Linked DNA regions of Homo sapiens. The protein of the gene in region 2 purifies or fractionates together with the protein of the main gene of each other region. This does not show direct contact. Each region holds a gene or a part of one and is shown on either strand. Other genes may lie near its edges.

The links.
Region 1: the proteins of SLC12A3 (region 2) and CDKAL1 purify together in Homo sapiens (affinity purification with mass spectrometry; one large-scale study listed by BioGRID and IntAct). This does not show direct contact.
Region 3: the proteins of SLC12A3 (region 2) and GUCY1B1 purify together in Homo sapiens (affinity purification with mass spectrometry; one large-scale study listed by BioGRID and IntAct). This does not show direct contact.
Region 4: the proteins of SLC12A3 (region 2) and KLHL3 purify together in Homo sapiens (affinity purification with western blotting, with the first as the bait; one study listed by BioGRID). This does not show direct contact.
Region 5: the proteins of SLC12A3 (region 2) and DNAJC18 purify together in Homo sapiens (affinity purification with mass spectrometry; one large-scale study listed by BioGRID and IntAct). This does not show direct contact.
Region 6: the proteins of SLC12A3 (region 2) and LRIG3 purify together in Homo sapiens (affinity purification with mass spectrometry; one large-scale study listed by BioGRID and IntAct). This does not show direct contact.
Region 7: the proteins of SLC12A3 (region 2) and ABCA3 purify together in Homo sapiens (affinity purification with mass spectrometry; one large-scale study listed by BioGRID and IntAct). This does not show direct contact.

Annotation. Positions count from the first base shown.
Region 1 is NC_000006.12:21,226,314-21,230,456, reverse strand, and holds part of CDKAL1 (threonylcarbamoyladenosine tRNA methylthiotransferase), read right to left. Parts: intron 2,654-4,143; exon of another isoform or gene 1,629-2,653; intron 1-1,628. UniProt on the Homo sapiens protein: Catalyzes the methylthiolation of N6-threonylcarbamoyladenosine (t(6)A), leading to the formation of 2-methylthio-N6-threonylcarbamoyladenosine (ms(2)t(6)A) at position 37 in tRNAs that read codons beginning with adenine.
Region 2 is NC_000016.10:56,863,712-56,868,006, reverse strand, and holds the start of SLC12A3 (solute carrier family 12 member 3), read right to left. Parts: upstream 2,801-4,295; 5' UTR 2,772-2,800; coding exon 2,490-2,771; intron 938-2,489; coding exon 791-937; intron 1-790. UniProt on the Homo sapiens protein: Electroneutral sodium and chloride ion cotransporter, which acts as a key mediator of sodium and chloride reabsorption in kidney distal convoluted tubules.
Region 3 is NC_000004.12:155,796,841-155,800,983, forward strand, and holds part of GUCY1B1 (guanylate cyclase soluble subunit beta-1), read left to right. Parts: intron 1-3,036; coding exon 3,037-3,234; intron 3,235-4,143. UniProt on the Homo sapiens protein: Mediates responses to nitric oxide (NO) by catalyzing the biosynthesis of the signaling molecule cGMP.
Region 4 is NC_000005.10:137,634,715-137,638,857, reverse strand, and holds part of KLHL3 (kelch-like protein 3), read left to right. Parts: intron 1-1,462; coding exon 1,463-1,564; intron 1,565-4,143. UniProt on the Homo sapiens protein: Substrate-specific adapter of a BCR (BTB-CUL3-RBX1) E3 ubiquitin ligase complex that acts as a regulator of ion transport in the distal nephron.
Region 5 is NC_000005.10:139,426,026-139,430,168, forward strand, and holds part of DNAJC18 (dnaJ homolog subfamily C member 18), read right to left. Parts: intron 2,659-4,143; coding exon 2,513-2,658; intron 333-2,512; coding exon 147-332; intron 1-146.
Region 6 is NC_000012.12:58,910,249-58,914,391, reverse strand, and holds part of LRIG3 (leucine-rich repeats and immunoglobulin-like domains protein 3 isoform 2 precursor), read left to right. Parts: intron 1-55; coding exon 56-127; intron 128-335; coding exon 336-410; intron 411-4,143. UniProt on the Homo sapiens protein: May play a role in craniofacial and inner ear morphogenesis during embryonic development. May act within the otic vesicle epithelium to control formation of the lateral semicircular canal in the inner ear, possibly by restricting the expression of NTN1.
Region 7 is NC_000016.10:2,299,229-2,303,371, forward strand, and holds part of ABCA3 (phospholipid-transporting ATPase ABCA3), read right to left. Parts: intron 921-4,143; coding exon 777-920; intron 305-776; coding exon 175-304; intron 1-174. UniProt on the Homo sapiens protein: Catalyzes the ATP-dependent transport of phospholipids such as phosphatidylcholine and phosphoglycerol from the cytoplasm into the lumen side of lamellar bodies, in turn participates in the lamellar bodies biogenesis and homeostasis of pulmonary surfactant.

The DNA.
Region 1 (4,143 bases), on a different chromosome or scaffold from region 2:
GGTGTGGTGGCTCACGCCTGTAATCCCAGCACTTTGGGAGGCCAAGGCGGGCTGATCACTTGAGGTCAGAGGTTTGAGACCAGCCTGGCCAACATGGTGAAACCCCGTCTCCACTAAAAATATAAAAATTAGCTGGGTGTGGTGGCAGGTGCCGGTAGTCCCAGCTACTCTGGAGGCTGAGGCAGGAGAATTGCTGGAACCTGGAAGGTGAAGGCTACAGTGAGCCAAGATTGCGCTGCTGCACTCCAGCCTGGGCAACAGAGTGAGACCCTGTCTCAAAAACAAACAAACCAACCAACAACCATGGAAGCCATGATTCAGCAAACACATCCCTAGGACAAAGATTCCCAGCTGGTCTGCTGCCACAGGAGGGCTGCGCCAAGAGTGACCCACCCCACATAACCCCACACTCAGTCCCCTCAAAGTACCTTGTGTGCCATACAAATACTATCATCATTTTCTCTTCATGCCAGATAGAGAACAGGTTGGGAAACCCTGCTTGGGCAGAGCTGAGAAGCTGGGGACCTGACTGTGCAGCTTTTCTCAGTGGTTTCTGTTCACCGGCTTCTTAGCTGGTGTCCAGGGAAGCGGAGAGAGGAGCACCTGGCTATTGTCAGGGTGGCTCTAGTTTCGAAGCACAATTGATGATATTTTCACCTCGTGTACCTGCTTCAGAATCGGTGCCTCCCCCAATAACATGGGACTCCCCTGTTGAAACCTGAATAACATTTTGAGAGATGGAAGGAGGGGTGTGGAAGGAGCAGATGAGAAATGCTAGATGGAAGGAAAAATGCTAGGGCGGAGGGGCAGCCCAGAGGCGGTGCAGGACAGGACAGGAAATCCACAGAAGCACAAAGTATCTTTGAACAACCATGGTACTTTGCTCAGTCTTCCCTTCCAAGCGCTCTAGCAACCTCCTGGTACCTCTTTGGCTTCTGTTTGGGAAGCTGCATCTCAGCATGCACAGGAGAGACACTGGAATGGTGCTTTGCAGAAGGTAACAGGAACAGGAATGTGTGGGGTGGACTGAAGGGAGGCAGGAGAATGGGGTAGAAAATCCAGTGGTAAGTTGTAGCAACAGATGAAATGGGAGATAATGAGGACCTCTATCAGGATGACGGCAGAGGGAACAACAGACTTTTGATGTAGAATCAATAGGATTTGAATTCAAAGGATTGGGTAATGCAAGACACAAAGAATAGGAATGGGGAAATGAAAACAACTTCTACAGCCCAGTTTCCACAGGCTCCTATTTATATGTGATTGTGTGGGAAGAATTCTTGCTCTGTCTGTAGAAGGCTAACAGCAGAATTAACACAGCTGTTAGCCACAAGGAAAAGTCTCTCAACCATAATGACAGTGGAAGCATTATTTACTGCTGCACTCCTCAGGTATCCGGGCCGATATCCTGCTGGTCTCCCTGCACTCTGAGTCCTTCGTAAGGAGGCACACAGCTGGACAGAATGGGACCATCCTTCCCATGGCAGGGGGAGGCAAGAGCTGGAGCTCAGTGGTGCACGAAGACCTGTCCCCATCCCCAGGAGACAGCTCTCTTATGAGGGTGGCTTTTTGCGTAATATTTTGGAGTGAGGTTTATGCTGAAGAGCTTCCATTTCTATTTAAAATAGCCTCAAGATCTCAAGGACAGCACTCACATATATGTGGGAACCTGGAGAAAGAATGCAGAGTCCTTCAGCTGAATTGATTGATAGGAACTATGTGAGTTCCTCAAAAGCAGCGAGTCTGCCTAATTCATCTCTGAAATCTTGGAACCTAGCAGGCTGCAGTCACAGAGCAGGTACTCAGTAAGTGTTTAGGAATGAATGAATGAATGACTGATCGAGTGAATAATATGAGAGTGTGTATTCCAATGAGATGAGCAACCATCAAGAACATTCTCATCTATGTCTCTGGTGATCAATGTGTCCTGTGATACATTCAGGAAGCTATTCTACTTGAGTCACAAATTGTTGCCTCTAGCAATTAAACCATCACTTTATAAGTGTGGTGTTATAAGACCAGAATTAAGAGGTTGATTAATTTCTCCGAGGCCTGAGTTCTTTAACCTTTGTAAGTCATAGATGGCTTTGAGAAGACTACACAGACCCTTCCAGAAAAATATGGAAGCACATTTACATATCCACACAGCCTCGCTCACACTCTTGTCTTCAGGAGGTTCACAGATACCTTCACCCAGGAGTGGACCCAGATTTTGTGGGTCCTGAAGCCTTCTCTTTAAGAAAAAAATAATGAATACAAAATTAGGTACAGGGTCTTGGAAGGGGCCCCTCAAATTGAGAGACCCCGAAACTGGCTACACGAGCTTCAGGGAAAATCCACCCTTTTCCCTATCCCCAGTTCAGAATGCTTGACCTTGGTTCTGAACCTGTGCCATGATTAGTGGTGCCAGGCCAGGTGTCAGGCTGACCTGGGGAAGGACTAGGTGAGTCTTAAAATCTTAAGCATTTAGTTGGGTTGATAACACGTTTTGTTTTTTGTTTCATGAAGCAGTGCAGGTACTGCGCCTTCTTGGCCTGGGTTAAAATAAAAGCAAAACTCTTTGACTTCTGATGACAATTTCAGAAAATTTCTTCTCCTTTCAACTCATCTGCCATAAAATTTTGTTCAAAATAAAGTTACCTACTGAACTACCGGAGAGGATTATTTGTGGTCATGTTAAGTTTAGTCATTCTTCCTCGGGCATCCTTTTTTTCTCTCCACCCCTCAGATGTTTAACATATTTGAACATAACTGATTCATAAAGGTATTTTGGTGCTGAGCTTTCCTCCTGTGCCTGCTGGACAAGTCTGCACCCTGCATCCTGCAGAGAAGCAGAAGCATGCATATGCAGCCACAAGATTTGCCACTCTCTTGAGGATCAAGGCGGGAGCGTGACCGCGGAGCAGGAGAGGGTAAATGCATCCTGTCTCTATTGTGCTGTGCCCTTTTATTATTTTCACCTTTTACCAAATCAAGATCTTGATAAAAGGATTTTGATGATACTATTTTTAAACATAATATTTTTAAAGTTTCTCAGATGACAGAGTAATTAATAATCAGTAGCTAGCTAGCTTTGCACATTTCAATTGTCACTACCACTGAGATACTTAAGAAAAAGTAGTTTAGAAATATGGGAAATATGAGATCTTATAAAGTCCAAGATGCTCAAACATGTAAATGTACAACCATACCAGTTGAAAGCAGGGATCATGAATAGAAAATAATGTAATAAAAAGTGCTTATAGGCGAAGTGATTATAAACAGCCGATAGAAAAAGTCGACACACACACGACAAGCGTAGTTCTAGAAAGTAAACAGAGGCTCAGACCTTCCCTAAACCTTTAAAACCTTATCAAGATTGTCAATTCCTGAAATTCAATACATATCTGCATCGCTCAAAGTATCATACACCAAATTCGAATAATGTTATTGCTTATTAAAACAAACTGGGGCTGGGTGCGGTGGCTCACGCCTACAATCCCAGCACTTTGGGAGGCCGAGGCGGATCACGAGGTCAGGAGATGAGACCATCCTGGCTAACACGGTGAAACCCCGTCTCTATTAAAAATACAAAAAATGAGCCAGGCGTGGTGGCGGGAGCCTGTAGTCCCAGCTACTCGGGAGGCTGAGGCAGGAGAATGGTGTGAACCCAGGAGGCGAAGCTTGCAGTGAGCCGAGATCGCGCCACTGCACTCCAGCCTGGGTGACAGAGTGAGACTCCATCTCAAAAACAAAACAAAACAAAACAAAAACAGCAACAACAAAAAAAACAAGCTGGAACATCAACTCAGACAATTTTTAAGAACTCAAATTCTACTCAGAAATGCTTTTTTAAAAACAGAAATTTGAAACAAGGCAGGATATGACCTTTGCTTACGCAAAAGGCGTTATTTATCTGTTAAATGGAGTTATTTATCCTGTTATAATAAAGACTAAGGGGCGCACTAAAATTCCCATCGTGCATTCTGTGTTAACTTTGATTAACATGGGTTTGTCTTCCCTTGTAAATCTCACTGCTCCCTTGATTAATTTCTAAATCTACTTACTTGCTAACTCTTAAAAATAATCTACTAATTTTCAAAAGTGTAGCTTATCAAATCCTATCAAAGTAATCAATCTGTTAAAGCAGAACCAAGTATGGAT
Region 2 (4,295 bases):
TGTGTCTGCCAGCCCCGACCATGGCCCCAGTGGTCAGCAGTTGATCCAGAGCCTGGCATTTACAGGGAGCTCAGCAAATGCCAGGTGAGCCAGCGCCCCATGTAAGAGCAGATATCAGAGCTCAGGTGGCTGTGACTTCAGCTTCCAAATTTAAAGCAAAGCCAGAGGCCGAGATGGAGGCTGAAGCTTCCAGGTGGGAGGGGCTGGTGTGGTCGCTGGCCCCACTGAGTTGCAGGGCCGTTCCCGGCTCTGGCAACACAGCCCAGGAGGGAGATCCCAGCTCTGAATAAGAGCATCTGGGGGTCGGGGAGGGCTCGTGGTTCAGATGGAGAAACGGAGGCACAGCCAGTTGGCAGCGTTAAGATCAGAACCCCAGCCTCCTGCCTCCCGGAGCAGGGCTAAAGCCTTCTACATCCCATAAGATCCCCTCTGTAAAGTCCCATAATGTCTCCAAAGCCAAGTGTCCTTGATTGTCTACTGTCTGGAAACTTAATCCTGCTCCTCACTATAGCAAACCTTTTCCTTCCCTTCATGGAGGAGAAAAACACATTTACGGATTTGTGTGTTTAGTGCAGCCCCCTGGTGGCTTTTTAGGGAAACACAGTTTCTTCTAATTACTCCCCGGCAGGCTTTAATCTATTGTCTATTGATCTATTAACTCATTGAATTCATTGTACAGATGGGGAAACTGAAGCCCCACCAGGGCCTGAGAGTCAGAGCTGAGCCTGGATGGAGCTCTGCCACCCCACCCCCATTTCTGGACATCACGCACCACCCACACCCCACTCACCATCACCCCCTTGACCCAGCCGAAGCGCACTGGCTCCTCGGGGTTCTTCTCGCTGCTGGTGCCTGCCTCGCCCTCCACCAGCCCATCAGTCATCTCGTGGCTGGGCCGGCTGTCAAAGGCCAGGGCATGCAGGTGTCTGCCTTCCTGCTGGCAGCCCAGAGACCACAAGTCAGGCAGGTAGGGGTGCTAGGGACGGCGTCTCTGCATCCAGCCCACTGACCTGCACCACTGCGCCCCATACCGAGCACCCCCCGACCCCTCAGCCCACTGGGTGTTGAGCTGCTTGAGGGGCTTTTAAAATGCTCCCTAGGCCAGGAGCAGTGGCTCACGCCTGTAGTAAAAGCACTTTGGGAGGCCAAGGTGGGTGGATTGCTTGAGCTTAGGAGTTCAAGACCAGCCTGGGCAACAAGGTAAAACCCTGTCTCTACTAAGAAATACAAAAATTAGCTGGGCATGGTGGTGTGCACCTGTGGTCCCAGCTACTCAGGAGGCTGACATAGGAGGATCTCTTGAAGCCAGGAGGTGGAGGTTGCAGTGATCCAAGATCAGATGCCATGGGAGACTGGGAGTCCTGGGCGCTCCTGCTCATAACACCTCCTCCCCCTAGGAGAGCAGTGGCCTTAGAAGTGATTAGGCAGTTGCCTAGCCTTGTAATGGGCGACAGGATTATTATCACCCTGGAGAGGTGAAAGCTTGTCCAAGGCCACATAGTTGGTCCCTGGAGGGCTGGGTCTTGAAACCAGGCCTCTACCTCTGGGGCACTGGGAGGTCTCCTAGTTTGTGCCCCAAGTGACTGACGCCCTCCTCTGGGGCTTTCTTCCTGGCACTTCATCTCAGTATGGAGCCAAGGGCCATGTCTTGGTTTGCTCTGGGGTGGAGAAAAGGCCTGCGAATTTAGTAAGTCTTAGCCTCAGAATCAAGAACAATTCTGGGCTGGGCGTGGTGGCTCATGCCTGTAATTCCAGCACGTTGGGAGGCCAAGGTGGGTGGATCCTTTGAGGTCAGGAGTTCAAGACCAGCCTGGCCAATATGGCAAAACCCCATCCCTACTAAAAATACAAAAATTAGCTGGGTGTGGTGGTGCGCTCCTGTAATCCCAGCTACTCGGGAGGCTGAGGCAGGAGAATCACTTGAACCCAGGAGGCAGAGGTTGCAGTGAGCCGAGATCACACCACTGCACTCCAGCCTGGGCGACAGAGCCAGACTCCGTCTCAAAAAAAAAAAAGAAAAGAAAAGAAAAGAAAAGAAAAAAGAACAATTCAGCCCAATTGTCATATGGGAAAAGTGAGGCCAGACAGGGGTCATGACAATCCACCTTCCAGCCCTCCACTCTTCACAGTCCAGCCTCCCGGGCAGCAAACCCGGCGAGCCCTCTCTCTGAGGTGAACCTTCCCAGGCCCTTCTTGCCCTGTCTCTTTCAGGGGTGTGCAACCTGCTTGCATGCTTCTACTCACTGGAAGCTCATTACCTCTCTAGGCCTCCCACTCTAGCTTTGGGTTGCTAGTGATTGGCTAATATACATTCCAACATGTGCCCAGATTTCTGCAGCTCCACTATTTCACTGGGGCCTCTCAACCCAGGAAGAAGACGCTCCTCCATCCCCATGGCACAGATGACAGAACTGAGGCTCAGAGAGGTTAGGTAGCTGGGTCGAGGTCACACAGCAGGGAAGTGGCCAGTCTTCTGAGACAGCACTTACCTTGAGGAAGGAGTGCAGGTCAGCCAGTGTGGGCCGGACCTTCCGGGGCTCACCAGGCTGGGTGCTGTTGGCATAGTGCTCATATGTGGGCACCACATCGATCGTGTTGTAGCCAAAGGTGCGCATGCAGAAGGTGCTGCTGTGGGTCAGGTGGCTGGGGTGGCTGCTGTCATAGGCAGCTGGTGGAGAGGGCTCATCACTGCTCAGCAGTGTGCTGATGGTGAAGCGCCCGCTGCACAAAGTGGCGTCCCCAGGCGTCTCTGTTGTGGGCAGTTCTGCCATTGTCGCCTGGGTGTCCAGGGAGGGGCCAGGATCCGCAAGGACACACAGGGTGGTTTTATAGGCTGCGTCTGCACTGGGGAGGAGGCAGGGAGGTTGGCCTAAACCGCCCGTGGCTGGTGAGCAGGGTCCCCGGACAGGGCCGGAGGCAGAACACCATTTGATTGTGGAGATAGGGGACCCGCCTTGGATCTGGAGGGCTGGGCTGGCCCAAAGCCAGCCACTCCCTGAGTCCTGGAGTGGCTCTTCTGAGTCTGGGGGCAGCAGAGATCTTCAGCCAGGACCCAAGAAGGAGTTGTCAGAGAGGACCCTGAGGGGCCCCATAAGGGATCCTAGAGATAGCCTGGTGGCTTTGTAGCAGGACGAGCTGCAGTCAAAACTCCTCAAACACCGACTTAAAGAAGGAAGGGGTTTATTCGGCCGGGGGGCATCGGCAAGACTCCTGTCTCAAGAGCCGAGCTCCCAGAGTGAGCAATTCCTGTCCCTTTTCAGGGCTCACAACTCTAAGGGGGTGCATGTGAGAGGGTCGTGATTGATTGAGCAAGCAGGGGGTACGTGACTGGGGGCTGCATGCACCGATCATTAGATTGGAACAAAACAGGACAGGGATTTTCAAAGTGCATTTCTATAAAATGTCTGTAATCTATAGATTACATAACCGATTAGGTCAGGGCTCGATCTTTAACTACCAGGCCCAGGGTGTGGCGCCGGGCTGTCTGCTTGTGGATTTCATTTCTGCCTTTTAATTTTTACTTTTTCTTTCTTTGGAAGCAGAAACTGGGCATAAGACAATATGAGGGGTGGTGTCCTCCCTTAGCCTGAGGACACACTCTGGGTCCTACTCTATGAGAGTTCAAAAACCTCTCATATTAGTATTTGGATTTAAAAAATTTATTTAATATTGGGAGGCTGAGGTGGATGGATCACCAGCCTGGCCAACATGGTGAAACCCTGTCTCTATTAAAAATACAAAAATTAGCTGGGCATGGTGGTGGGCACCTGTAGTCCCAGCTACTTGGGAGGCTGAGGCAGGAGAATTGCTTGAACCCAGGAGGCAGAGGTTGCAGTGAGTCCAGATCGCACCATCGTACTCCAGCCTGGGCGACAGAGCAAGACTCTGTCTCGAAAAAAAAAAAAAATTATTTAGTAGTTTTGAATAGATGAATTATATAATTTTTTTTTTTTTTTTGAGACAGGTTCTGGCTCTGTCACCCAGGCTGGAGTGCAGTGGCACAATCGCAGCTCACTGAAGCCTCAACCACCAGACTTCAAGAATCCTCCCACCTCAGCCTCCCAAGTAGCTGGGGCCACAGGCATACACCATCATGTTTGGCTAATTTGTTTTTACTTTTTGTAGAGATGGGGTCTCAAGTCACCCCAACCACCTGACCCTGGATGCCCAGGCTGGTCTCAAACTCCTGGACTCAAGTGAGTCTCCTACCTCAGCCTCCCACCTCCCAAAGTGTTGGGATTGCAGGCGTGAGCCACTGCGCTTAGCTGGTATAATATTTAAAAAGATGTGTATAT
Region 3 (4,143 bases), on a different chromosome or scaffold from region 2:
TTAAAGCAGCTAATAGGATGGCATAATAAATACATTGGTATATTTGACATCAAAAATTATCTTTTCTATAGTATGTTAGCAAAAAATCTAAAAGGTCTCTTTCTGGGTTTGAACTATTTTAAATTAAAAATATTTACCTACTCTAATCCAAATACACTGTTCCAAATATATTATTCAATTAAAATGTATGTAAAATGTGATTTTTAATAAACGTCAGAGAAAAATAAAACTATAGATTGTTGTTTTCCAATTTAGGAAAGCATTTTACTAGGAGATACATGGGAATTCAGAAATATAAAAATTATGTCTAAATTTGCTTCAGAACAATAGAAAAGATAACTGTGGGGATTATTGTGAGATGATATTCTGTGTATTCATAATTTTGTATAAACAAAGTGTAGGTGCATTATGTAGTAACACAGTCAAGAAGGCATGTTTTGGTGAGCTATTGGTTAAAAATTTAATCTGAATTCCACCATGATCACTTTTCACTTAAAAATGTGGTCTTAAAATTTCTGAAAAATGTAATACACTTTGTAACAACCTCCTGTTATATTATTACTATTGTATTATACATTACATAACAATAATATATAAGGCCAAATAAGAATAATATATTGTTGGCACAGTAGTTCACACCTGTAATCCCAGCACTTTCGGAGGCCGAGGTGGGTGGATCACAAGGTCAGGAGTTCAAGATCAGCCTGGCAAACATGGTGAAATCCCATCTCTACTAAAAATACAAAAATTAGCCAGGAGTGGTGGTGGGCACCTGTAATTGCAGCTACTAGGGAGGCTGAGGCAGGAGAGTCGCTTGAACCTGGGAGGCAGAGGTTGCAGTGAGCCGAGATCATGCCACTGCACTCCTGGGCAACAGAGCAAGACACTGTCTCAAAATAATAATAATAATAATAATAATAATATATCGTTAATTTTTAAGTACATTTAAGATTAATTAAATATTATTTAACTATGACATATAAGAATAATATATCAGATAATATAAGGATATGGATGTCTTTTCCCTGAGAAATAAATATCAGGAAAATAAAAGAAACAAAACTAAGAAACATAAACGCTTTTTAAAAAAATTATTAAGCTACATTGATCTAAAGATGTCCCATCTGCTATCAGTAAGTGTTTTCTTCTTCTGCCTCTTCACAGGTTGAGCTTAGGAGAATGTCAGCTTCTCATTAGGGGCAATTTCTATTTATGGAAAGAAAGGTTTTCTTCAGAAATAAAAGCAGAAAATTTGGAGTTTATTTGTTAATTCCCATATGCAGACATTGGTCACCCAGTGAGAAAATTGCAGATTGTCCTATGAGACATGCTCAGGTGTGTAGGAAGATTTGTACTCACACTACATAAACAAAGATCAAGTAAAAGTAGTTTTACTTGTAAAATAATTCTAAGATGATTAGTTTGAATTTAGAAAAAACTTAATGGTTCATTAAAATAATGATATAGGGCATTTTTAGAACCACGAGACCGTTATGATTTAAGTTTTGTAACTCAGTATGAGCATTTTTGACCATTCATTTTTGAACGTACAATCATGTTTTTTCTCTGCTCATGGGCAGGTCTCGTATACCTTTGGCCGATGATCTGGCTTCTTTCTAGATGTGTCTTTTTCTGCAAGTGGATTTACATATCCATTTTAACGAAATTAAAAGACACCGTGTATTTCATTAGTAAAATCTTTGATTGTTTTATTTTCTTTATAGGTATGCTAATTTTTGTTTTGCTTTATGAACATTGCTGCTGAGAATATATTGCATTAATCCAAAATTCTGCAAAGTCACCCCTTTTAAAGAATTTTGGATAGGATTAATTCAAAATTCTTCAAATTATTAATCCCAGATTCTCCAAAGACATAACTAAATTTTTTCCTTTTAGAGTAATTATTATTCAGAGTGGCCAGAAGTAATGACTTTGCATTAAAAAAATTCAAGCCAAAGATATAACCTTATGCCATTTTAACCAGTTAGGTTTTGTTGTCGTTGTTGTTGTTGTTTGAGATGGAGTCTCGCTCTGTCACCCAGACTGGAATGCAGTGGCATGATCTCAGCTCACTGCAGCCTCCTGCTCCCGGGTTCAAGCAATTCTCCTGCCTCAGCCTCCCGAGTAGCTGGGACTACAGGCGCTAGCCACCACACCCAGCTCATTTTTGTATTTTTGGTAGAGACGCGTTTCACCATGTTAGCCAGGCTGATCTTGAACTCCTGGCCTCAAGTGGTCTGCCCACCTCGCCTCCCAAAGTCCTAGGATTACAGATGTGAGCCACTGTGCCCAGCCTCAAAGAGTACATTTTTAAAAAGCAGTTAACTTTTTACTTGTCAGATTATCACTAAAATAATAAACATTATTATGTTGTTGGAAAAATGACACAAGTTACAATGATGACGCATAAAATTCAGCAGGATTGAATAATGTTTCAAATAAATGAGAAAAATTTGTCAAAGTAAAAAGAAGACATGAGAGCCAGAAGTAAGAATGACACATAGTTTTAGATACATAAATTACATGCTGAGGCTGGGTCATAAACGTGGTTGGGAATTTTTACTCATTGTTTCCAAAAGGGAAAAATAAGCAGTTACAAGATTCATAGAATACAGAAAGCAAAATGAAAGTTTCTCAAAAGAAGCATTATTATTCTTGAGAGAGAGAATAAAGATAGATTTTTTTCCTCTCCTTATGATGAGAAAAAATTTGAGAATAATAAATTACAGCCTGTGTTAAATACCTCAACGTTTATCATAGAGATGTTTTCTACATGATCGTTTCAATTTAGACTGATGGCACCAAAAAGTGCAACCTGGCAAAAATGCATCTCAAGTTCACTGCTTTTTGGTAGATGCTTAAATATCTAAGAGAATAAACTCACAATCTTCGTTCAATTCTCCATAATTCTATTGTCTTCAGCCTGATGTTTTGAATGGTAGGAGGTGGCAGGATCAGATTCCTTGACAGAAATCGGGATTGCATTGTCATGTATATAAGTTGAGACTGATCTTGCCTCATTTCTCCATATGACAGTGTCATGAACCTGGACGATTTGACAAGGAGAGGGCTGTATCTAAGTGACATCCCTCTGCATGATGCCACGCGCGATCTTGTTCTTTTGGGAGAACAATTTAGAGAGGAATACAAACTCACCCAAGAACTGGAAATCCTCACTGACAGGCTACAGCTCACGTTAAGAGCCCTGGAAGATGAAAAGAAAAAGACAGACACGTAAGAATGTAACGCTTGGAGCACTACTGTTATTCATAACATAATGTGACTCTACTATATTTAAGTTTGAGAACCAGACTAAAAAGCCATGTGACCTGTAATAGCTCTGGTGTAGTAAATAAAATCTTTCACATTGCTTTTAAAAAGAAATTATGCTTAAGGAAATAAACCAGTCTTAATGGTGGTGGAAATATGTCTGCTATTTTTAGAAGCCAAGTTGGAATAATATAGGCCAAAATATCTTTTGGAAAATCATGAGAATAACTCAAATTCAAATTTAGTTCAAAAATTGAAGTTTAACTATCATTTATTCCTGCATTCTTTCATACAAGAGTTATATATTGACCATCTTCAGTATGCTGGGGGCTGCCGCGTGCAGAGAGCTGCTCTGCACAATGAACTTAACCACTGGCCATTACATGTTTAAAAATTTATTTTCTGGGACCTTGAATTTAGGATTAGAAAGAAATGAATCTGACAAATTGTAATATTATATGTAATGACAACAATTACATCTATAGTGACATACATTAGCAAAAATATCAAAATATAAAACATTTCTATGAGTGGTGGATTCAATTATGAAATATTGAGCAAGGACATGAAAGATAATACTTGATTTTCAAGAAATGTATTTAAGTAAGTACATAGCATGCATACTACTTGGCCTTGCTTTCATATGCTAATTAAACGCACATCACTGACATTTATAAGCTATTTTACCCAGGTTCTTATGTGTTCGTTTTTTAATGTTTATATAAACATTTGGCGGAGCTTCTAAGACCTTAGGACTAACGTTCAAAGTCACATGGGTTTGTAGGTTTGAGTTACTCAATATTCTGTTCTGGCTGTTTGTATTAGAAAATCATCTAGGTTTCATTTTTTTTGTATTGTGACTCAATTTGCTAA
Region 4 (4,143 bases), on a different chromosome or scaffold from region 2:
CATTTGTAGCTACTGCCCCAGGGACATATCCACTCTTCTTCCTCATCCAGCTTTTGGGTGAAGAGCCAGGCCTTCTTCCAGACAGAATATGTAACTACCCATGTACTAGGCTTTCTAGGACTCAGAAGAGTCCCTTTCCTACTTTCCAGTGTCTGGGAACCTATTTACTCAGAAGATGAGACTTAGAAGGAGAGCATGCTTAGCTAGGGGGTGCCTCAGGTCTCCAGTTTGAACCCTTTGCTAGACAGATGAGGGAGCTGAGTCCAGCACTTGGAAGAGACCTGGCTCAGGTCATGCAGTGGGCCAGGCTGCCCATTTTTTCTGTTGCCCTTTCTACTACCCTACTGAAGCTTTGCCAGGCTTTTTCACCATAGGTGAGCCTCCTTGCCTCTGGACTCTATCTAGCTTCAAAATTTCAACCCAAAACTGTTAGTTGACATAAACTCAGAGAGGTGATCTCATCTCTGCTTATACTGCCAGGTAGATGTCTCTGCAGACAGTAGCTCTATTAAACTAATATGATATTCTTTGGCCCCCAGGGAGGTAAAAAGCAGTATTTTTTACTTCGCTGAATTTTTATTTGTGTCTTCACAATCTGGGGACCTTTCTCAGCCTTCTCTTTGCCTCACTCATATAATTCCAGGGTCTTTAGCCCCTCTGGAGGCTGCCTTTAGTGAGTGGAACAAAGAGAAGGAAAGGGTAGTGGTGCATTGTTTCTTTTGGGAATTACTTTTGGCTATAAGTAGAGAACCTGATTATACTCTGCCTTAAAACACGAGGGATTTTGCTTTACTCATGAAACAAGAAGCCTAGAGGTTAGCAGTTGCTGAGTTGGTCCAGTAACTCATGGACATTGAGGCCACATTCTTTAAGATTCTCTTGGCCTTTTTCTCATGATCGTGAGATGGCTGTTATACCTCCAGCCAACACATTTGTGTTCCAGGTAGCAAGAATCAAAAAGGGGAATGGTATCTATATTAGAAAAGCAAAGGCTGTTTCTGAAATCCCCGTAGACTTCTGCTTAGGTCTCATTGACTTGGTCACGCCTAGCTGCAAGGGAGTCTTGGGAAGCAAGTGTTTAGCTTTCCACTGCTAAGATAGAGGAAGCTGGGGGAAAGGGGATTGGAATAGGTGTTCAGTGAGGCTACCTCAGGTGACTACTTGGAATCAAAGTATCCCACTCTGCGGTTTTTATGATCTACATTTGCCATGCATTTCAGACACACCCCTTGTCCTTTCACAGCCCACTCTCTGAGTCAAGTCTTAATAGTCCCTGCAGGCAGACACTGCAGATGTGTTTCAGGGAGTTGCCACAGGCCGCATGGTGATGCAGAGGTGGTACTGAGCCATACATTTAGGTTTCCAGCCCATGCATTTGGACTCCTCCCCCATCCTCACTGCTTCTCACACAGCAGGGTGAGGCCTGGTGCCACGGAAGTCTCATGAGTCTCTTGTCTCCCAGGCCTAGCATCGGTGGAAGCCTACAGCTACAAGACCAACGAGTGGTTCTTTGTGGCCCCGATGAACACGCGGCGGAGCAGTGTGGGTGTGGGCGTTGTGGAGGGTAAGGAGGCGGCAGTGGCCAGTGGCCAGGCCTACCTGGCCCACGGGCCTTGTCCTGGGTCCAGCATCATGCTTGGTGCTTCCTCTACCGTGTTTTTTTTCCTGAGATCACTCCTCTGGGTTAGGTACTATTATCCTGATTTAGCGGATGAGGAAAGTTGAGACTCAGAGAGGTGGTGGAGCTCCTGGCCCAAGGCTGCTAAATGTTGGAGCTGGGCTGGGGGAGTAGAAGGAGCCTAGAGGGGAAATGCCGGCCTGTGGTTTGGCCCTGTGTCAATAGCTCTGCTAGAAGTTGGGGAAGGGAAGGGAGTAGGGAATCCATATTCAGCATATAACCCAGGAGGATAATGTAGTAGAGTGAGAGTTAAATGTGCTTAATTAATTTTGTCCTCATATTCATATGTTGAACATTAACAGAACTGTGAGTGAGGTAGGCACCTCTTCTTAGGTCTGATGACTCTCTGCAGGGCAGGCTGGTGATTGAGTCCAGTTCTAGTCAGGAAAGCTGTGTAGGGTAAGGTAGGAGGGAGTGGTGAGGTCTAGGGCCTGGTCAGATGGTACACTTTTGTTTGTAAAAAAACCTCTCATTTCTAGTCTCTTGTTTTGTTTGCAAAACCCTTGTGAAGGAGATAGGCAGGCCTCAGATTCTCTCCATCCTCCAGATGTCCCACATTCCAATGACAGTAAATAACACAGCCTGTCCTTGAACCCAGGTCTTCTGACTCCTAAGCCGGTGTTCTTTCCACTGTGCTATGCTCCTTCAAAATGCTGACAAATGCCAGTAGGTAGGAGTTCTGTAAATATGTGTGAATTCAATGTACCAAAGCATAGAATATTACTTGAACTAAAATGTTGTCATTTGCAGGACAACACTGATTCATCAACTTGTAGTAATGTGGGAATTTAGATGGAATATCTGTTCATTCAGACGTGTATGCAGACATTCCATCTCTCATGTACACACTCAGAAATACACATGCAAACACAAATGTGCCCTGGGGTGAGTGTAACATCCAGCGAGTTAGACATTAATAGAAAGATTCTTTTCTCACACTGTATTTCTCAGTCTGCACTGGTATTGTGTAATTTAAGTTTTCATTTAAAGGTGTACTATTCTAACATACTAAATAAGTCATCTATGTGAGGGCAAGGATTTTGTCCTCCTACCAAGGTAAATTGTATCTTGCAATCTCATTCTCTTGGTGGAAGAGAAATTGATTTGTCTGCCAAGTGTAAGTGCTTTGTCTAGCCACCTTCTCATTTCTTCTCTTGTTCCTTAGCCAGGAATATCAAACAATAGAGTAGGGGTTAAAAATAGCAAATCCCTGTTAATAGACTCAAGGAGGAACCTTGAGTGCATATTTTTTCAGCTGATGCAGATGGAATGGTTGATGGGGGTTAGAGGAGGTGCCATAATGGTGGTAATTTAAAATACTCCCCTTGACAAAGGCTTTTGTGAGCATGTTCTGTATGTGGAAGAAGTGCTGTCTTGTAGCATGCCCTGTTGACGTGGAAGACAGGCTGGGAATTTGTTTCTTCTGCCCTTCCTGAATCTGAAGCTCTTTCAGCTGTGGGCACCCTGGGGCAGCAGAGTTCAATTTACAGCTGTGGTGAGAATGTTGAGGGAGGGACTTAAGTGGACTCTGTCTTCTTCACTGTGGCCTTGAAGAGACAGCTCTCCACACTGTCTGGCTTCCTCTCCTCCCTCTCATCATCTCATTACCATGGCTATACAGTTTGAATGACACTGAACAAAAAAATGGAGGAAATCACAATAATTTGCTACTGGCTGCCTCGAAGAATACCTATTTAGGAAAAGACTCTGTGGATTGGAGTGTAGGCAGAAGCTCCTAAGAGAGCAGAGAGTGTGCTATGGATATTTCGCATCTGAACCAGCACATACCATGCAAGTAGCCTGGACCCTAGAAGAGCTGCTTAGTCAGGTTTTTAAAAAATTTTGACTTTGGTGAGTGCAGAACTGAGGACGATGTGTTTCTTTCTTTTAGATGGGTCAATTGAGAGGACCCTGGGGCAGAAAACAAAGCCAGGCTCGATGATGATAGAAGAAAAACATTTTTATATTTGATAATACAGCAGTAGTTCTGGTAGCAGAGTATAGGTTTGAGCCTGAGAATCTTTCTAACTTAAAATAATTGCAGATTTTCAAATACTAGTAGTATTCTTGGTGTCTGTCCATCAAGAAAGCACATGTGACCAAAAAATCTACTGAGTAAGTAATCCTGTTAAATAGATTTGCATTTGGTGATATTTATTTAGTCTACAGCTAGTGTGACTCCTCCCCCTGTTCCCACAGAAGAGACCATCCCATTGCATTTTAAGACTAAATTTTAAACCCAAAATGTTTGAATTTCTGCTTTGGGATAGCTCAAATGCCAAATTTTTCCTCCTGTGTCCAACCTCACTCTCAGCCCTCAGCCCCCAGCCCCAGGCAGAAATGATGCTCTTGGGTAGCAGCTTAATGGTATTTTAATTTAAAAGTAAATGACGGCACCTCAGGGCTCTTGTGCATGGCTCAGAGATCACAGGGTAGTCTGCAGAAAAATTCCAGCCACCCTGGCC
Region 5 (4,143 bases), on a different chromosome or scaffold from region 2:
CTTGCCTCAAACTCCTGCTCAACTGATTCTAGATCCTTGCTGTTTCCATCATACCATTGTACCTCTATTCAGATTTTCAAACAGGAGCTTGCTGAGAGCCATAAATAAAGAAATATGTTTAAGAATGATAATTTGGGGAGACTAACCTGTAGGAAAATGTCCTCCAAAGAAGACGTTGAACAGCTCTTCTGGAGTGATGTCAGCTTCAAAATCCCTGTAATAATTATAAGGTCTGGCTCGAGGGGCAGTGAAAGTCACCTGTTCATCTCCGTATTCATCATAGCGAAGTCTCTTATCAGGATTGCTCAGGACTGCAAATGCATTTCCTATTGCTGCAACCAACAAGAACCAGCACATGAGGACACAGTCTTTGCTATGGCTGAGAGTGATCACAGCAGCAGTGACAAAGAGCCTAGAGGTGACTCGTGCTGGACAACTTCGCAGGGGCCCAAGAAGAGATGCTTGGGCCTAGAAAGTTCTCCACAGTGCTTGCCCTTCAGGTTTTCCCTGATCGCCAGAAACAACAACATTGGAATCACAGGAATTAAGAACTTCTGCTGCAGTGAGTTAACTCCCAATCAACAGTCCTGTAGTCATCCCAGCTGTCCTAGAAGTTAGGAAGCCCCCCTCAGTTCGGGTTCCCAGTCACCACAAGTCCCAGGCATGTTGGGGAAATGTTCTCCAACTGGTCAGCACTCTCATTCATAAAAAATGTGTTCTGGCCAGGTGCAGTGGCTCATGCCTATAATCCCAGCACTTTGGGAGGTTGCAGTGAGCCGAGATCATGCCACTGCCTTCCAGGCTGGGCAACAGAGTGAGACTTTGTCACACACACACACACACAAAGAGTGCTCTTTACTTTAAAAAAAATTTTTTTAGAGATAGGGTCTTGCTGCATTGCCCAGACTAGTCTCAGATTCCTGGCCTCTAGTGATCCTCTCACCTTGGCCTCCAAAAGTTTGGGATTATAGGTGTGAGCCCTGCATCTGGCCAAAAAAGTGTTCTTATTTCACTTGAGTGCAATAGTTTATGTTGGAAACAGTTCACACATCAGTAGTGATATTTTAACTTGTAGTCCAAAAAATTTCCTGAATTCTCTTCTGAAACAATCTTAGTAGAAACCTTCCTGCTTGACTAAAAACAAAGTCTTCATCATAGTCTTATTTCAGTTTACTTTAGACAAATATTTTCTGAAATTAAGAAATGTATTTCCAATGTCTCAAGGAGGGTTCAAAGGCTGAATAGTTACATATGTTTACCAACATGTCTCCTTTCTATGTACAGACGTGCAAACCTTGCCCAATTTCATTTAAACATACAATCCGTAGCACCAATCAATAGAAACCTCAAAAAAAAGAAATCTTTTAAGGCATCCCGCACTCCCTACCTGTAATTCAGTCAACACTGTCAGAAACACAGAAAGAGTATTTCTTCATGATTCTTTTACCTGGGGAATTGTTAAATGTTTGCCTTGCCACTCTGTTACCTACAACTCTATATATACATATGTACATATGTATTGTAATAATTATACATTTATTTTGCTGAACCATTTGAAAATAGGCCACAGATATTACGTCACCTTGCCCCTAAATACCTCAACATATATCTCCCAAGAAGAAAGACATTCTCCTATGTGATCACAACACCATTATCACAGCTAAGAAAATTAACATCAGTCCATTATCATCCAATGCATCCATGCAAGATCAAGTATAGCATTTAGTTTCTTTTAAGCTAAAACTGTCCCACCTTTTTTGTTTTTCATTATGTTAAATTTTTTGGAAGAACAGATCAGTATTCTTGTAGAATGTTTCATATTGATTGTTTCCTCATTATTAGATTCAGGTCAAACATTTTGGCAAGAATACCCCATAGGCGACAACTACCTAGCACTCAATGGTTTTAGCATTCACTGAAGATCTTTGCCTGTAACAATGACTTGGAGTGCAGTGGTGCAATCACAGCTCACTGCAGCCTTGACCTCTGGCTCAAGCAATCCTCCCACCTCAGCCTCCCAAAGTGCTAGGATTACAGGTGTGAGCCACTGCGCTCAGCCTGAAGAATATATTTCTTAAAATATCATGGAGGATGGGCACAGTGGCTCACGCCTGTAATATCAGCACTTTGGAAGGCCTAGGCGGGCAGATTACTTGAGCTCAGGAGTTTGAGATCAGCCAGAGCAACATGGCAAAACCCCATCTCCACAAAACATACAAAAATTAGCCGGGCATGGTGGTGCTCACCTGTAGTCCCAGCTACTCAGGAGGCTGAGGTGGGAGGATCACTTGAGCCCGGGAGGTGGAGGTTGCAGTGAGCTGAGATGTCACCACTGCACTCCAGCCTAGGTAAAATCAAGTGGGAGCTATGCTGATTATCACTATTTAAGAGGTGTGGCAGGGGGAAAAAACCCTCCTTATGGCCTTATAAAACAACTATGGGGAAGGCTAAAAGCAACTTATTATGACCAACCATGACAAGGGCACCATTGAGCATTGGTTCAGGATCAGACCTTTGAAAGCATCTGTTGCTCCAGGAGCACAGTTCTTGTCAGGGTGAAATTTCAGGGCGAGTTTTCTGTAAGCTTTCTTAAGCTCTTCGTCACTAGCATCTCGAGAAACTCCCAGAATTTCATAGTAATTTCTGCATTTCTTGATCCTAAAAAAAATCACAAGCATGTATGTCTATAAAGGTCCCTTTTGTACAACTAATTGCAAGATAATACATCGATCCTACCTCCAATCTGTGGGACCCAAAACAAACCTATAAGAAAATTAGTGCACACGTTAATGAAACATTCAAATTCATTAACAATGTCCTTCTCCCACCCAGAACTTAATGCCTTTCAAAGTACTTTTACATCTACTATTTACTCTTCCTATATCCCTGCAAGTGAGTAGAACAAGTATGCTAATTGTTACACCAAGGTTCAGGCTAAGATCCTGAGAGATGAACTACAGGACAGCAAAGCCAGAAGAAACAGTTAATCACCCTGTTTGTTTATAATTTTTTCTCTCTTTTTCCTATGGCTATCTTTTTAAACTGTATTTTTTGCTTTTTTTTTTTTTTTTTTTTGAGACGTAGTCTTGCTCTTGTTGCCTGGGCTGGAGTGCAATGGCGCGATCTCAGCTCACTGCAACCTCTGCCTCCCAGGTTCAAGCAATTCTCCTGCCTCAGCCTCCCGAGTAGCTGAGATTACAGGGATGCGCCACCAGCCCTGGCTAATGTTGGTATTTTTAGTAGAGATGGGGTTTCACCATATTGGTTAGGCTGGTCTCAAACTCCTGACCTTGTGATCTGCCCACCTTGGCCTCCCAAAGTGCTGGGATTACAGGTGTGAGCCACCGTGCCTGGCTAAACTGTGTTTTTAAAAAGTTAACATACACATGATAGAAGAAAAAGAGCCAACAGAACTAAAGTTTATACAGTAAAAATTTTCCTGCTTCATCATTCCCTGTCCCCCAGTTTCCCACCACAGGGATAACCATCATTAGAAGTTTTCTGTGGATCCTATGTACAGAGAGTACAGGTATAGTCCTCTCCATTTTTTTTCTTGCCTAAATGGAAACATATTATAATCACTTTTCTACATCTTGCTTTAAAAAAAAATTATTTTGGGCTGGGCGTGGTGGCTCACTCTTGTAATACCAGTGCTTTGGGAGGCTGAGGCAGGAGGACTGCTTGAGGTGAAGAGCTTGAGGCCAGCCTGGGCAGGATGGTAAGACCCTATCTCTATGAAAAATTTTAAAAAGTTAGCCAGGCATGGTGCCTTGCATCTGGAATTCCAGCTACTCAGGAGGCCAAGGCAGGTGGATCACTTAAGCCCAGGAGTTTGAGGCTGCAGTGAGTTATGATTGTTCCACTACACTCTAGCCTGGGCAACAGAGCATGATCCTGTCTCTAAAAAACAAACAAAAAACAATTTATCTTGGAGATCAATCCTTAACATATAGAGATGAGAAGTATAGAATAATAGTTTAGACTAGACAGTAGTTTAGATTAGAGTGGCAGTTCTGAACTTTTGATCTCAGCAACGTTTTATACTCTTAAAAATTACTGATATGCATGGTACAGGAAGCGAAAAAAAATTACTGAAGACCTCAAAAGAGCTTTCATTTATATGACTTCTATCAATCCACATCT
Region 6 (4,143 bases), on a different chromosome or scaffold from region 2:
GCACTATTAGTGATTTTTAGAAATGACTTATAATTTTATTTTTGTTTTCTTATAGGGACTTAAGTCACAACAGATTATCTTTCATCAAGGCAAGTTCCATGAGCCACCTTCAAAGCCTTCGAGAAGTGTGAGTCTTCGTTATTTTGTTTTTAAGGTTTGAGTAAAATACGTTACCCCTTATACTATTTAACCGTAAGGAATACTTGGATTATAGTGAGTTATTCAAAACTTTTAACTTGGGTGGTATCTTGAAATAATATGTAAAGTTTTCACCTCTGTGAATTACAGATTACCTAATCAGCTTTTCTTTTTCTTTTTTTTTTTGGCATTTGTAGGAAACTGAACAACAATGAATTGGAGACCATTCCAAATCTGGGACCAGTCTCGGCAAATATTACACTTCTCTCCTTGTAAGTGAATATCAGCAGAATTCCTCATGTATGTTTGCAGGAACCTTGAGTGGGAGTTCCATAGGGACTAGCATAGAGATCTTAGAAGAAAAAAATGGAATATTTTTTTCAGGGCATAGTAAAGATACGCGCTTTAAATTGGTTAACTTGTTTTCTAGCCTCTAACTCTCTCACTGCTAAATTTCATGTATTCTTATAACAACACACTTTACACTTTGCTGTTGTTGCCGAACTGGTCTTCGAGATTCAAAGAGGCCAGCTTTACACCATAGAAATGTGTATTTTATCGTATTCTGTAGACTAGGACTTTAATTTTAGTATCGCTCAATGGTTGGCATGGGGATCTGTGGGTTATGTATTACGTAGTTCCTAGTGGAGAATGATCAGAGTTGCTTTGTGAGGAGAAACCGGAGTTGAGAATAAGCCATTGGAGTATCCTGTTTTAAGTGTGGTACCTGCAGTGTAAATCAGAGTTCAGAGACATCAACTCAAAAAAAGTAAATATGTGACTGAAGACAGAAATAACTTTGCAGGTTGTTTTGCAAATATGAGTTTTCAAATACAATTAAGGTTGTACCAAGTTTTCTGTATTTTTAGTGTAGGTAACGTTGTATATACATGCACTGACGTAGGTTTTGGAATAATTCTGACTTTCAGCATTTAAAGGTAGCATTTAGAATGCCTGTGGTTTAATTTCTAAAATCTAATTAGCTTACCACCTTAATCTTAAATAATTTAAAAATATATTTAAGCTACTGATGTTAAAAAATGTTTTTCTTTAAGCAACTTAAGGAAAAAACCACCATTGTTAGTTGCTTCTGAGAGAGGTGTTGGGAGGGTTGAAATTATACAGTAAATTTCAGGAAAGCTGTTCAATTAATAGAGTGATCACTACCCAATTGCTTACATCTGGTGATTTATAGAGGTTTGTTTTTACTGAGGGCCCAGGTCAGCTAAGTCACGGGTGCAGCCGCTGTGTCTGCTTTCCTCTGTTTGAATAAGAGCTAAGTGACATTTGATACTGATGTGGTTTTTCCAAAGATCAGAAACAGAAAGGAGTGAAAGAAAAAGCAGTCGGTATTTGACAAATAAACACTGTATTTAAAAAACATTTTTATGCTAGCATAAATACCTTTTTTCTTTGTCTTTTACAATTGCTTAAAATTTTAGAATCTAAATGGAGTGCTGGTTTTGGTATCGTAAACATCTGCAGCTATTCTTGTTTGACCAAGGTGGCCTTTTTAAATTCCACTTTGCTCTTGCTGTCCTCGCACTGCATATTGGCAGATTCTGTCAGTATGTTTAAGAGAGCTTGAGGGTCATGGCATACTTCATGGCTGAGAGGATCTGCAGTGCAGTTTTGTAATCTGGGCAGCATGGGGAAAGCAGTCTACTCTTTGGCATGGTATAGCGTTGAGAGCATTAAGAACTTGTGAGGAAGTTAGAAAATTATAAGTAACCTAGTGTTTTATACTTTTTTTTTTTTGAGACAGAGTCTTGCTCTGTTGCCCAGGCTGGAGTGCAGTGGCACGATCTTGGCTCACTGTAAGCTCCGCCTCCTGGGTTCACACCATTCTCCTGCCTCAGCCTCCCAAGTAGCTGGGACTACAGGCGTCCGCCACTACGCCCGGCTAGTTTTTTGTATTTTTAGTAGAGAGGGGGTTTCACCGTGTTAGCCAGGATGGTCTCGATCTCCTGACCTCGTAATCCTCCCGCCTCGGCCTCCCAAAGTGTTGGGATTGCAGGTGTGAGCCACTGCGCCCAGCCCCTAGTGTTTTACACTTTAACGTTATAACTTATAATTAGAAAGCTACAATGATCTCTCAAAAGTTAGAAATTTGTGCTCCTTTAAAATTTGTCCTCTTCTCCATATTGTTTTTGTGTTTCACTTTAGCAAGTGCTGGGTGTGAAATCACCCTGAATAATTTCACTTTCTTTCTCCTTAATGTGTTACAATACCTCTGGCCAGTGATTGCTTTGTTCGTCTCACATAATGATACATCCAATGTGTTACCTAGATTACATAGACTCTGCGAAGAGTAATTTATATCATGGGCCTGATAATTCAATGTGGAGAGTAAAAACTTCTTTTTATACCTATGAAATATCTTGAAAAATTTACCTCTCTGGTTGTTTTCATCTACGAATGTTTTGTTTCCTCCTGCAGGCTTGATTGGATATTGTAATATACAATTATTGTTTCTCAAGCACTTTTAATTTGTGTTGTGTAGAGTAAAACATTTTCTTTTATATAAAAACACTTGAAAATAAAGCTAAAAATGAGTTCTTAAATGCTTTTCTGAGATTAAAAAAAATCTGTTAAGTTATATAACATGACACAGATTGAAAACTTGCTGTAGCGTCACAATTAAATCTCATATCTTTCAAAGTAGTTTTTAGAATGATTTGACTTTCATATTAAGAGTTTTTTGTGGTTGTTTTTTGTTTGTATCTTTTACATTTTGCAGAGGAAAACATTTTTATGAGTTATTTGCACAGGTTAAATAGTTTGAAAGCTTGTGTGTAAAGAAAATGAGTAATTAGTTGAAGTCTTAACCATAGGATTTAATATTACTGCTCCATACTCTTTCTACTCTGTGCCATGAAGACCCCTCCCAGCTGGAGGGGCTGCATGCAGAGAAGACTGTCCTGGTGAGACTTTTGTCTTCTCTTAGCTATAGGAGCCAGGAGCTGATAATTAGATCAAAGGGTACCGCATGTCCAGAGACAAATTCAGTTAGGGACCTATTCTCATAATATCAGGGAATCTGGGATGATAGGAATCTGCGATAATCTTCCCACTAACAAAGCTCATCTCTAACCTTTTTAGCATGCACAAGGCCTGAATAGACATGCTTTCCTTTGAATCCCACACAGAACTAGCTCAGAAGTCAACCAGTGTGCTAGGTGCAAGGCATGATTTGTATGTTTTTTAAATTTTTCTCTCACAATATCCTAGCTATTGCAGGATGACATATTTTAAAGAAGTGGAATAGTCTTTGGAATGAACATATCTTACAGTAAAACTCTATTGACCTGGCTTACATGAGGGAGTTGATTTTTCTGAATGTATGAACTCTGGCTTTGCGTGGTGTGGAATGACCTGCTCGAGCATTGGACATGATTGAAATCTGTGCCTTGGGTTAGGGAAGTTTGAATCTGTGAGTTCTACAGCATTGTAGTTGAACAAAAGAGCCTTGTTGGTTATTAAACGGAGCTAGTTGGGTCTTAGTCTTGATGCTAATGGTTTATATAGTGTTACCCAGCATGCAGATGCTTGCCTGGTGTCCTAGAGTTGAAGAATGTTAGGTCAGTGACTGTCAAAGAGGCACCTAGGGTACTTGTTTTTTTTGTTTTTGTTTTTGTTTTTTTTTGAGACGGAGTCTCGCAGTGTCACCCAGGCTGGAGTGCAGTGGCTCAATCTCAGCTCACTGCAAGCTCCGCTGCCCGGGTTCATGCCGTTCTCTTGCCTCAGCCTCCCCAGCAGCTGGGACTACAGGCGCATGCTGCCACGCCCAGTTAATTTTTGTATTTTTAGTAGAGATGGGGTTTCACCGTGTTAGCCAGGACGGTCTCGATCTCCTGACCTCATGATCCGCCCGCCTCAGCCTCCCAGAATGCTGGGATTAAAGGCGTGAGCCACCGCGCCCTGCCAGGGTGCTGGTTAGATTATCAGACACTATCCCTAGAGATTCTAAATTAGTAGATTTGGGTGGGGCCCAGGAGTATCCAT
Region 7 (4,143 bases), about 55 Mb from region 2:
GAGGAGGGCAGTCCCTGCTTGTGCCCCTGGGCCTGCAGGGCTGAGGTGCATCTCCTGCCGCTGTGGTTGGGGAAGGCCCGAAAGCCCCATTGAGGGAGTGAGGCGGGGCTGGCGCTGAGATGGTGTTAAAGGGGGGCCTGCTGGTGGCAGGGGCGTGAGGCGCCTGGCCCTCACCTGTGAGCATGGAGAGGGTGGTGGTCTTCCCGGCACCGTTGTGGCCCAGCAGGACGGTGATCTGTCCCTCGTACAGGTTGAGGTTCAGGTCTCTGACGGCCGCCCTGTCCTTATTTCCCACCCTGAACACCTGCAGGAAAGGCAGAGGCTGCCCTGGGCTACCCACAGCCCCGAGGCCCACGGCCAAGGCCTCTCCTGCTCCCCTGCCCGACCGTCTCAGAAGGAACCAAGCCTAGCGTCACCATCAGTGTGCAGAGGGGAGGGACGTTTCGGGCAGATGCTGCTCCTGGCTGCTCCCCTCCGGTCTCCCCCAGCCCCAACACGTCCCAGACACCCTCAGTGTCTCTGCAACCCTGGGAGGCCCATGAGGCCGAGGCACTGCTGGACGGCTGAGTCTGGCATTTCCTGAGAAGCTGGAGATGTGGTCTGTGCCCTGGGGAACCGGTTAGAGGGCAGCGGAGGGTTCCTGCCCTCCTTCAGGGCAGGAGGGAGCAAGGCTCAGAGGGAGCGCCTGACGGGCTATGAGGTCTCACTGCCGTGCTGGTAAGTCTTCCCATGGTCCTGGCAGCCCCGGCCCTCCCTGTCCCCACAGGAGGCGGCACCTTGGACAGGTGCTTGATCTTGATCCCCGCCACCAGGTCCTCTGGCTCGGCTTCAAAGTACTCGTTTCTGAGTGCTTTCTCGGGGTCACTGTCTTCTTCCTCCTTCCCTGCAACCGCCCTTGGCTTCCCACACCAATAGGAGGGCTGGGAGGGAAGCAGACAGCTGTCAGTTTGTTTTGTTTGTGACGAGCAAAGCAACAACCAGCAGACACACTAGATGCACACAGCCATGCAGCCTCTGTCCCAGGACTTCGAGGCACTGCTGTGGAGAAGGCGCTACTCAGGGAGAGCCCCAGAGAGTCCCAACTTGTTTCATCCCTGTGAAGGCTCTAAGCCTCAGTTTCCTAACCTGGTAAGTGGGTGTAATGGTTACATACAGGCTTGTGAAGATGAACTCAGATCCGATACAGGGCAAAGGGAGTTTGTCAGCTATGAAATTTCATAGACAGAAGTTATCTAACGCTCCAGTCCAGAGGGATGTTGGAGCCAAAATGGAAAGAAAGCTGTGTCCCCATGCCACCCGGCTGTTTCTTTGCTCAAGCCCCACATGAGTTCATGACTGTAAGCAAGAGAAGCCGAAGGCGCCACGCCTCCCTCTACTATGAGGAAGCCTCTTCCCATCTTCTCTGTGGCCATCACAGAAATAACTCAGTGCATGGGGTAAGAACACAGGCACACACCTCACACAGTGCCCTCGAGGACAGCCTGGTGCCTACATGGAGGCAGTCGACACAGTGGTGCGGGCAGAGCAGCAGGGAAGGTGGAAGCAGTGCCTTGGCAGGATCAGTGCCAGGGCAGCTGCGGGGCGGGGACTCGTTTACCCGCAGCTCCACGCCCAGTGCACTTCCAGCACCTGGAACGGCATCTGGCACACACTGCACTCCACTGGTTCTCAGGGACACAGCTCTCATATGTAAAGTGATTTTAAAATCAGAATGCATCTTGGCTGGGCACGGTGGCTCGAGCCTGTAATCCCAGCACTTTGGGAGGCCGAGGCGGGCGGATCATGAGGTCAGGAGATCGAGACCATCCTGGCTAACACGGTGAAACCCCGTCTCTACTAAAAATACAAAAAAATTAGCCGGGCGTGGTGGTGGGCGCCTATAGTCCCAGCTACTCGGGAGGCTGAGGCAGGAGAATGGCGTGAACCCGGGAGGCGGAGCTTGCAGTGAGCCGAGATGGCACCACTGTACTCCAGCCTGGGCGACAGAGCGAGACTCCGTCTCAAAAAAAAAAAAAAAATCAGAATGCATCTTAAACTATAAAATGCCATAGTGTAAGTGTGGCATTTTTCTTTCTTAGTGATAGACAAAGTAACCATTACCTCTAACGGTCAGTGTCATCTTACAGTTGATGGATTACAGTAGTGAACACTTGATAACTACTTGTGGAAGCAAAGAATGAAAACAGAAATGGCCTCGGCTGGAGGTGGTGGCTCACGCCTGTCATCCCAGCACTTTGGGAGGCCGAGGCGGGTGGATCACCTGAGGTCAGGAGTTCAAGACCAGCCTGGCCAACATGGCGAAACCCCGTCTCTAATAAAAATACAAAAAAAATTAGGTGCGTGTAGTGGTGGGTGCCTGTAATCCCAGCTACTCAGGAGGCTGAGGCAGGAGAATCACTTGAACCTGGGAGGTGAAGGGTGCAGTGAGCTGAGATCGCGCCACTGGACTCCAGCCTGGGCAACAGAGCTAGACTCCGAATCAAAGAAAAAAAAAAAAAAAGAAATGACCTTAACTAGCCATCGGTAGGGAATCAGTTAAGTATATGTTGATGGGCCCACAGAATGGAACACTGTGTGTCACTATAAATGAAGGTGGTTTGTTGGGAGCAAGCCCCCCAAAGTCTGGCCATAAACTGGCCCCAAAACTGGCCATAAATAAAATCTCTGCAGCAATGTAACACGTCCATAATGGCCATAACACCCAAGCTGGAAGGTTGTGGGCAAGGAACACCTGGCCCGCCCAGGGCGGAAAACCGCTTAAAGGCATTCTTAAGCCGCAAACAAAAGCCTGAGAGATCTGTGTCTTAAGGGCGTGTTCCTGCTGCAAGTAATTCGGCCCATCCATCCATTTCCCTTAAGGGATACTTTTAGTTAATGGAATATCTATAGAAACAATGCTAATGACTGGTTTGCTGTTAATAAATATGTGGGTAAATCTCTGTTCGGGGCTCTCAGCTCTGAAGGCTGTGAGACCCCTGATTTCCCACTTCGCACCTCTATATTTCTGCGTGTGTGTCTTTAATTCCTCTAGTGCCGCTGGGTTAAGGTCTCCCCGACCGAGCTGGTCTCGGCAGTGATTCTTAAAAAGGTAATACTTAGGTAGAAATATATTTATAAATATAACAACATTCATCAATATGTTTAGATAATAGTTTAAAACTATATTTATAAATAGACAAACATATATATGTATTTAAGATATCTGAGTTGTACTGTTAGGTTAAGAAAAGCAACTTGTAAGCATTTTTTACAATATGATTCTTTTTTTTTTTTTTGAGACAGGGTCTCATTTTTTCACCAAAGTTGGAGTGTGGTGGTGTGAACATGGCTCACTGCAGCCTCCTGGGCTCAAGTGATTCTTCTGCCTCAGCCTCTCAAGTAGCTGGGACCACAGGCATGTGCCGCCTGGCTAATTTTTTAAATTTTTTATTTATTTTGTAGAGATGGGGTTGCACTATGTTGCCCAGGCTGGTCTCTAACTCCTGGCCTCAAGTCATCCTTCCACCTCAGCCTCCCAAAGTGCTGGGATTACAGGGATGAGCGACTATGTCCACCCCGATCCCATTTTTTTTTTTTTTGAGATGGAGTCTCGCTCTGTCGCCCAGGTTGGAGTGCAATGGCACAGTCTCAGCTCACTGCAACCTCCGCCTTCCGGGTTCAAGCAGTTCTCCCTGCCTCAGCCTCCCAAGTAGCTGGGATTAGAGGCGCCTGCCACCACACCCAGCTAATTTTTTTTTTTTGTATTTCTTTAGTAGAAACAGGGTTTCACCATGCTGGCCAGGCTGGTCTCAAACTTCTGACCTCAGGTGATCCACCCATCTTGGCCTCCCAAAGTGCTGGGATTACAGGGGTGAGCCACCACACCCGGCCTCCAATCACATTTTTATGAAACTATGCTATATGTCCATCCATCTGTGCTCTATGACAGTAAGTGTAGAGAGGGAAACCCAGCAAAGTACATACCAAATGTCAACAGTGTTCATCTCACCAGTGGGAATGAGCTATAGATTTCAGGAATCCGAACTTTTTTTCTCTCTTTTTTTTTTTTTTTTGAGACAGACTCTCGCTGTGTTGCCAGGCTGGAGTGCAATGGCGCGATCTTGGCTCACTGCAAGCTCCGCCTCCCAGGTTCATGCCATTCTC